2 linked regions of the Homo sapiens genome follow. The main gene of each other region encodes a partner of the protein of the gene in region 2 in a complex. Each region holds a gene or a part of one and is shown on either strand. Other genes may lie near its edges. A codon is read from its position in the direction of its gene.

What was found.
Region 1: the proteins of HP (region 2) and HBA2 are in contact, whole or in part, in a crystal structure (PDB 5HU6), measured with the Homo sapiens proteins. Residues at the interface, in NP_005134.1 of Homo sapiens: His183, Leu185, Lys202, Phe205, Leu206, Asn207, His208, Arg286, Ala288, Asn289, Phe290, Lys291, Ser326, Pro327, Val328, Gly329, Val330, Met343, Gln347, Tyr352, Lys379, Cys381, Ala382, Val383, Glu385; in NP_000508.1 of Homo sapiens: Val2 (codon at 1,377), Pro78 (codon at 1,032), Arg93 (codon at 987), Asp95 (codon at 981), Pro96 (codon at 978), Val97 (codon at 975), Lys100 (codon at 966), Lys128 (codon at 740), Ala131 (codon at 731), Ser132 (codon at 728), Ser134 (codon at 722), Thr135 (codon at 719), Val136 (codon at 716), Thr138 (codon at 710), Ser139 (codon at 707), Lys140 (codon at 704), Tyr141 (codon at 701), Arg142 (codon at 698).

The regions. Positions count from the first base shown.
Region 1 is NC_000016.10:170,699-174,292, reverse strand, and holds HBA2 (hemoglobin subunit alpha), read right to left. Parts: upstream 1,418-3,594; 5' UTR 1,381-1,417; coding exon 1,286-1,380; intron 1,169-1,285; coding exon 964-1,168; intron 822-963; coding exon 693-821; 3' UTR 583-692; downstream 1-582. UniProt on the Homo sapiens protein: Involved in oxygen transport from the lung to the various peripheral tissues.
Region 2 is NC_000016.10:72,052,573-72,056,318, reverse strand, and holds the start of HP (haptoglobin isoform 1 preproprotein), read right to left. Parts: upstream 1,815-3,746; 5' UTR 1,667-1,814; coding exon 1,662-1,666; intron 159-1,661; coding exon 76-158; intron 1-75. UniProt on the Homo sapiens protein: As a result of hemolysis, hemoglobin is found to accumulate in the kidney and is secreted in the urine. Haptoglobin captures, and combines with free plasma hemoglobin to allow hepatic recycling of heme iron and to prevent kidney damage.

The DNA.
Region 1 (3,594 bases), about 72 Mb from region 2:
TAAGGCCGCAAGGTGCTCTGCTGAAGAGTCTCCCCAGGTGTGGGCTGCCGGCTGTGAGCATCCCAGCCCCTTCCTCCTTCCCCACTGACTGGGCTGCTCTCAGAGGGTCACCGTGACACAGGAAGTGTGAGTAGGGCCAGCACCCTCACTCCAGCCACCTACCCTCTGGCAGGAAGGGGTGGGAATGAGAGAAATGTTCTGGCACCTGCACTTGCACTGGGGACAGCCTATTTTGCTAGTTTGTTTTGTTTCGTTTTGTTTTGATGGAGAGCGTATGTTAACTGGGTTCAACCAGGGAGATTTCAAAGGAGGGTGGCGATGCTGGGACTCCCTGAGTAGAACCCTGGATGCCTCTCTCCTCCCCAGCTTCTGAGCCACTGCCTGCAGGCCTGGCACCTCTCAGGACAGGGGATGGTTCAGCACCTTCTCTTGAGCAGGCCCACCTCAGCTTCCCCTCCCATACTCCCTGCAGTTCTCCCTCCCCAGCCCCATGCAGCTGCAGAGAGGTCCTTGGTCTGAGACAGGTAAACACCTCCATTGTTGGCACATTCCGGGATAGAGAGAACCCAGGCACACACAGGCTGCTGCCCACTCAGACTTTATTCAAAGACCAGGAAGGGCCGGTGCAAGGAGGGGAGGAGGGCCCGTTGGGAGGCCCAGCGGGCAGGAGGAACGGCTACCGAGGCTCCAGCTTAACGGTATTTGGAGGTCAGCACGGTGCTCACAGAAGCCAGGAACTTGTCCAGGGAGGCGTGCACCGCAGGGGTGAACTCGGCGGGGAGGTGGGCGGCCAGGGTCACCAGCAGGCAGTGGCTTAGGAGCTGTGCAGAGAAGAGGGTCAGTGCGGCCCAGGCCCGCAGCCGCCGCCTGCGCTACACCTCCCGCAACCCGCGTGATCCTCTGCCCTGAGAGGAAGGCGCCATCTCGCCCCTCGACCCAGATCGCTCCCGGCCCGCCGCTCACCTTGAAGTTGACCGGGTCCACCCGAAGCTTGTGCGCGTGCAGGTCGCTCAGGGCGGACAGCGCGTTGGGCATGTCGTCCACGTGCGCCACGGCGTTGGTCAGCGCGTCGGCCACCTTCTTGCCGTGGCCCTTAACCTGGGCAGAGCCGTGGCTCAGGTCGAAGTGCGGGAAGTAGGTCTTGGTGGTGGGGAAGGACAGGAACATCCTGCGGGGAGAAGCAGAGTGAGGGGTGGGGTTTGGGTCCGGGGCCAGGACGGTTGAGGGTGGCCTGTGGGTCCGGGCGGGCGAGGAGCCCGGGTCGGAGCAGGGGAGGGAGCCTCACCTCTCCAGGGCCTCCGCACCATACTCGCCAGCGTGCGCGCCGACCTTACCCCAGGCGGCCTTGACGTTGGTCTTGTCGGCAGGAGACAGCACCATGGTGGGTTCTCTCTGAGTCTGTGGGGACCAGAAGAGTGCCGGCCCGCGAGCGCGCCAGGGTTTATGCTTGGGGCGCGGGGGCACGCCCGGCCGGGCGGCGCTCATTGGCTGGCGCGGAGCCCGGGGCGCGGCCTGGACCGCAGGGGAGTCCCGGGCGGGGCCTGCGCGGGGCCGGGCGGCGGGCTCGGCCTCCCCTGGGGGTGCACGCGGGGCGGGGGCCAGGACGTCTCCACCCTCCACCCGCCACTCCACTCCCGCCCATCCCGCTCGCCCGGGGGCAGGGCGGTAGCGGCGCTGGCGGGGCCGGCCCGTTGGGGTCGGGCGCTGTCGGCTCGTGCACCCCGGAGCGCAGCGCCACCCTTTCCTTTCGGGCGCCGGAGCGTCCCTAGCGAGGGAGAAAGTCAGCCCGCACCCCCGCCCCGGCCTGGCACGCGCTGGACGCGCATCGACTCCAGCGGGATCGGGGAACACACGGGCGAGCGAGTGCGAGCCGGAGGGCTTCGCCCAATCCTGGGGCGGAGAGGAATGCGCGCACCCGGACGCCCTGGCCCATAGGAACTCAAAAGAATTTCTGCGCAGAGCCCCTCCTGCTCTCCAGCCTCGCTTCCTGCAGCTCCCTTTCCCTCTGGCGATAGTCACTAGTGTGCTTGAGTGACAGGCACCGGGAAGGAACAAACACCAGGACGCAAAAAGCACGGGGCTGGGCTGGGGGCGGCTCCAGATTCAGACTCCTCTACCCGGGGTTGTGGGGTGGCGCGTGGGGTGGTGGGTGCTGGCTAAGCCCCAAGTCATGGACTCACAGTTTGTGTGACTGACTCTCCCACTGGCCTAGAGGTCGTGGTTCACTGTGACACCCCCAGCTCTCCAAATGCTATCTGATGGAAGACTTGCTAGGTAAATACTGGTTGTAAACAGATAAACAAACTTGGCTCTGGGTAGGGAAAGGACAGGGGAGAGAAGGCCCCTGTGGTTGCAGAATGTAGGTGAGGGGATGTGGGGTGAGGAAGGAAGGGGTGGACTTGGCGAGGGGGAGGGTGGGAGGTGCAGGAGTGCCAGTGGGTGCATCCCTGCTCATGAAAAGTGATGGTTTGGCCAGGCTCGGTGGCTCACGCCTGTAATCCCAGCACTTTGGGAGGCCAAGGCGGGTGGATCAGCTGAGGTCGGGAGTTCGAGACCAGGCTGACCAACATGGAGAAACCCCGTCTCTACTAAAAATACAAAAATTAGCTGGGTGTGGTGGTGCACGCCTGTAATCCCAGCTACTCGGGAGGTGGAGGCTGGAGAATCCTTTGAACCAGGGAGTTGGAGGTTGCAGTGAGCCGAGATCGTGCCACAGCACTCTAGCCTGACGACACAGCGAGACTCTGTCTCAAAAAAATAAATACATAAGGCCGGGCGCGGTGGCTCACGCCTGTAATCCCAGCACATTGGGAGGCTGAGGCGGGCAGATGCGAGGTCAGGAGATCGAGACCATCCTCGCTAATGCAGTGAAACTCTGTCTCTATTAAAAATAGAAAAAATTAGCCAGGCGTAGTGGGGGGCGCCTGTAGTCCCAGCTACTCAGCTACTCGGGAGGCTGAGGGAGGAGAATGGCGTGAACCTGCGAGGTGGAGCTTGCAGTGAGCCGAGATTGTGCCACTGCACTCCAGCCTGGGTGACAGAGCGAGACTCCGTCACAAAAAAAAAAAAAAAAATAATAATAATAAAAATAAAAAAATAAAGTCATGATTTTTTGGGGGGATCATGATGGAAACATAGTAATAATCAGTGAGACTGTGGAATGGCGCAGAGCTGAATGAACTGGCTGAAAGGGATGCAGGGGAGACACTTCACTGAGAATAGGAAGTTGTACACAGGTATCTACAGTATGATGGTATTTTTGTCCAAAAAGAGAGCCTGTGGCAGTAGTTGTAGATGTAGCTGTGTTCCCTCAGCATGGGATGGGGCCCATGGGCTGAGTTCCAAACCCTTCATTTTGGTCTCTTCTGGGGGTGGGTGTGAGGAGACAGGAAAGAGAGACACTCTCCTACTTTAAGTAACACAAAAAAGGGTGTGTGTGTGTGTGTGTGTGTGTGTGTGTGAAAGCATGGATAGATTTTAGTTTATTTATTTATTTATTTATTTATTTTTTGAGACGGAGTTTTGCTCTTGTTGCCCAGGCTGGAGTGCAATGGCGTGATCTCAGCTCACCTCAACCTCCACCTCCCGGGTTCA
Region 2 (3,746 bases):
TGGGTGTTCTCAGAGAGAGTGCAGACCCGAGAGGGTCAGAGTGGGATGCACACTCCTACCCAACCAAAGACTGACCTGCGATATCCGTGACATCATTGCCTGAGTCCACTGCAAAAAGCTGTCCCCAGAGCAGGAGGGCAATGACAGCTCCCAGGGCACTGCAGAGAGAAGACAAGGAGGAGTGGAAAGCTAGTCTCCCTGCTTCACAGCACATGCATGCATCCACACACACATGCATGTACACACACACACACACACATGCATACACACACACTCCTCCCACTTAGCAGCCAGAAAAGAAAGTCGATATATGGAAGTGCTAGGACCAAGAAATTGCCCCCACACCTGCCCATACACACTTTAGCAGCTTCTGAGCATACCAAGCTTCCAGCAAGCCCTGTCCTGCTGGGAATTCTGCAGAAGCTTCAGAGAGGGATAGAAAGGCACATAGGTGGAGGGGTGGGCTCAGTTTCTGGCTGCATTCAGGAAAGTACATTGGCAATAATACAGGAGCCCTCCAGGAAAGAGAAACCTCCCTCAGACACCGCAAAGATAGTGGTAATAAAATGTAGATAACTCAGAGATGGGAACTTTGGGCTTACTGTGCTATTCCTCTACTTCTTGATATTTTCCGTAATAAAAGGTTCCTTAAATATATAATTTTAAACACGTGGGTATTTCTAGTATTTTATAATAATTCACCTTTAGGAAATGGTATCTGAAACCCCAAAATGCCAGAAGGTTACCTGGAAGAGAACTGGTGTCCAAAAGCAGGACGGTGGCCATGGGCATTGACCCACAGGTGCCGTCTGCCAGTTCACCATCTCACTAACAAATGCCAACCATTCGGGCACTACTTGCTTCTATTAAAATAGTTTCTAGGCCAGACACGGTGGCTCATGCCTGTAATCCCAGCACTTTGGGAGGCCAAGGCAGGCAGATCACGAGGTCAAGAGATCGAGGTCATCCTGGCCAACATGGTGAAAGCCCGTCTCTACTAAAAATACAAAAATTAGGTGGGCATAGTGGCGCACGCCTGTAGTCCCAGCTACCTGGGAGGCTGAGGCAGGAGAATCACTTGAACCTGGGAGGTGGAGGTTGCAGTGAGCCGAGATCATGCCACTGCACTGCAGCCTGGTGACAAAGCGAGACTCCATCTCAAAAAAAAAAAAAGTTTCTAGTCTTATTATTTCAACATTTCAAAAAGTGTTTATTTTTATAAGATCTAAGTGCCTTAATTAGATGTATCCCAGGTATTAGTGTGTATCCCAGGTACTAGTCAATTAATTGTGTCATTCAAATGTGTTACTATTAGTCTTCCTTATTGTACATTTTTAAAGAGGAAAATATCTGCTAATAAATATACTCAGGATGCCAGGAAGCCTACCACGGGAGCTGATGACATACCCTATAAAGTCAAAAATGTAACCTGAAGGAAAAAGACACTCCTGAGAGTAAATCTTATCTCCTGGGAAAGACAGCAGCACTGTCTTCTATGGATGCAGAAAAGGAGAAGATTTAACACACTAAGCCCTTTGGTTCACTATAATTTAGCCCATTTGCCCGTTTCTTTGTTCTATTTCTGCATCTCTACCGATGTATGCAAAAAAGACTGAAATAAAGAACCAGAGGAAAGGCAGGAGGGAAAGCTGTGGACCCACCTCATCTTGGTTGGTCTTGCCTCTGGAAGAGCAGTGCTGTGGGGCATCTGCTGGTCTTTTTATGCTGCCACTAGCTCACTTCTCCCCCTTCTCCATTTCGTAATTCCTGTGTCTACAAACTTTGGCCCTGGTAAGGTCACTATCTTTTCCAGTAACAAAACCACAAACAATACCCCTGTTAAGAGTTGAGCTCTTGCTTCACACTTGATTTTCTTGTGATGTTCTATTACAAATCCCAAGAAACCTGGCAACTCTATGACCCACAAACCTGCCAAAGTATTTCCTGAAATCAGCAACTGGGCAGGACAGGGCGGCGGCAGGAACCATCAATCTGTCTCTTTATCTTGGAGGATTTTCACACTGCAGAAAGGCTCATTTTGAGTTTTTTCAAACCCATTGTAGACATTTCTGCAGCCTAGCTTAGGTGGGGCTCTAAAGAAAGTACTTCCTTTTCACAGTAATTTTCTCCACCTTGTGTGTGGCCATCTCCCTATTGCTTAAAAGCTCTCCAGCCTGAAATCAGTAAATGTGTTTATTGTGTCTTCTCTGATTGCTCTTTGCAAGAAATCACACAACTAGTTAAAGCTATAGTGTAGACTGACACAGACTATACTCAATGGCAGTGGTTCTCATGGTTTTATAGTCTGGTGATTAGCCTAAATAGGCAGATGAGAAAAATCAATATGTCTCAGTCAAATGTCTGCACCTGTGTGTATCCCAGGTACTAGTCAACTGAAACTTAGTAGCAACTCAATACAAGGTTGATTTATTCATTAAAAAGGGTTAGTTGTTCTTAAATTAGAGTGTACAAAAGAATTACTTTTGGATAATCATGGTGACACTGATATAATAGCAAAGTAACTAGAAACAAGACAAATGCCCATCAACAGGAGGAAGGGTCAATACTGCATTGTATGTGGATATAATGGAATATTATACAGCATAAAATGAATAAACTCTGCAAGAACATGGATCATCTTATAAACATAATTTTTGAAAGAAAACCGCAAGTTTCAGAAGATTACCTTCAGTATGATGGCAGTCTTCTAGAGATCAAAACCAAGTAAAACTTGGCAATGGATTCTTAGATAATGACACCAAAATCACCAGCAATCAAAGAAAAATTAGATAAATTGGGCTTCATCGGAATGAACATTTGTGTATCAAAAGACAGTATTAATAAAATGAAGACAGGCCAGGCGTGGTGGCTCACGCCTGTAATCCCAGCACTTCGGGAGGCTGAGGTGGGCGGATCATGAGGTCAGGAGTTTGAGACCAGCCTGACCAATGTGGTGAAATTCCATCTCTACTAAAAATACAAAAATTAGCCAGGCATGGTGGCGCATGCTTTAATCCCAGCTACTCGGAGGCTGAGGCAGGAGAATTGCTTGAACCTGGGAGGCAGAGGTTGCAGTGAGCCTAGATCGCACCACTGCACTCCAGCCTGGGTGACAGAACAAGACTCTGTCTCAAAAAAAAAAGTGAAGACAGTCTACAGAATGGGAGAAAATATTTGCAAATTCTATATCTGATAAAGGGTTGTTATCCAGAGCATATCCTAACTACAACAACAAAAAGACAAACAATTAAAGCATGGGCAAAGGATTTAAATAGACATTTCTCCAAAAAATATACATAAAGTGCCAAAAAGCACATAAAAGATACTCAAGGCTGGGGAGTGACTCACACCTGTAATCCCAGCACCTTGGGAGGCCGAGGTGGGTGGATCACCTGAGGCCGGAAGTTTGAGACCAGTCTAACCAATACGAATATGGTGAAACCCCATATTTTCTAAAAATGCAAAAATTAGTCAGGCGTGGTGGCATGCATCTGCAGTCCCAGCTACTACTTGGGAGGCTGAGACAGGAGAATTGCTTGAACCTGGGAGGCAGAGTTTGCAGTGAGCTGAGATCGCACCACTGCACTCCAGCCTGGGCAACAGAGCGAGACGTCGTCAAAAAAAAAAAAAAAAAAGTCACTCAACACCATTGGAAAATGTCAATAGGGAAATTTGCAAATCAATACCACAATGAAACACCACTTCACACCTACTAGGATGGCTACAAATTTGTGTGTGTGTGTGTG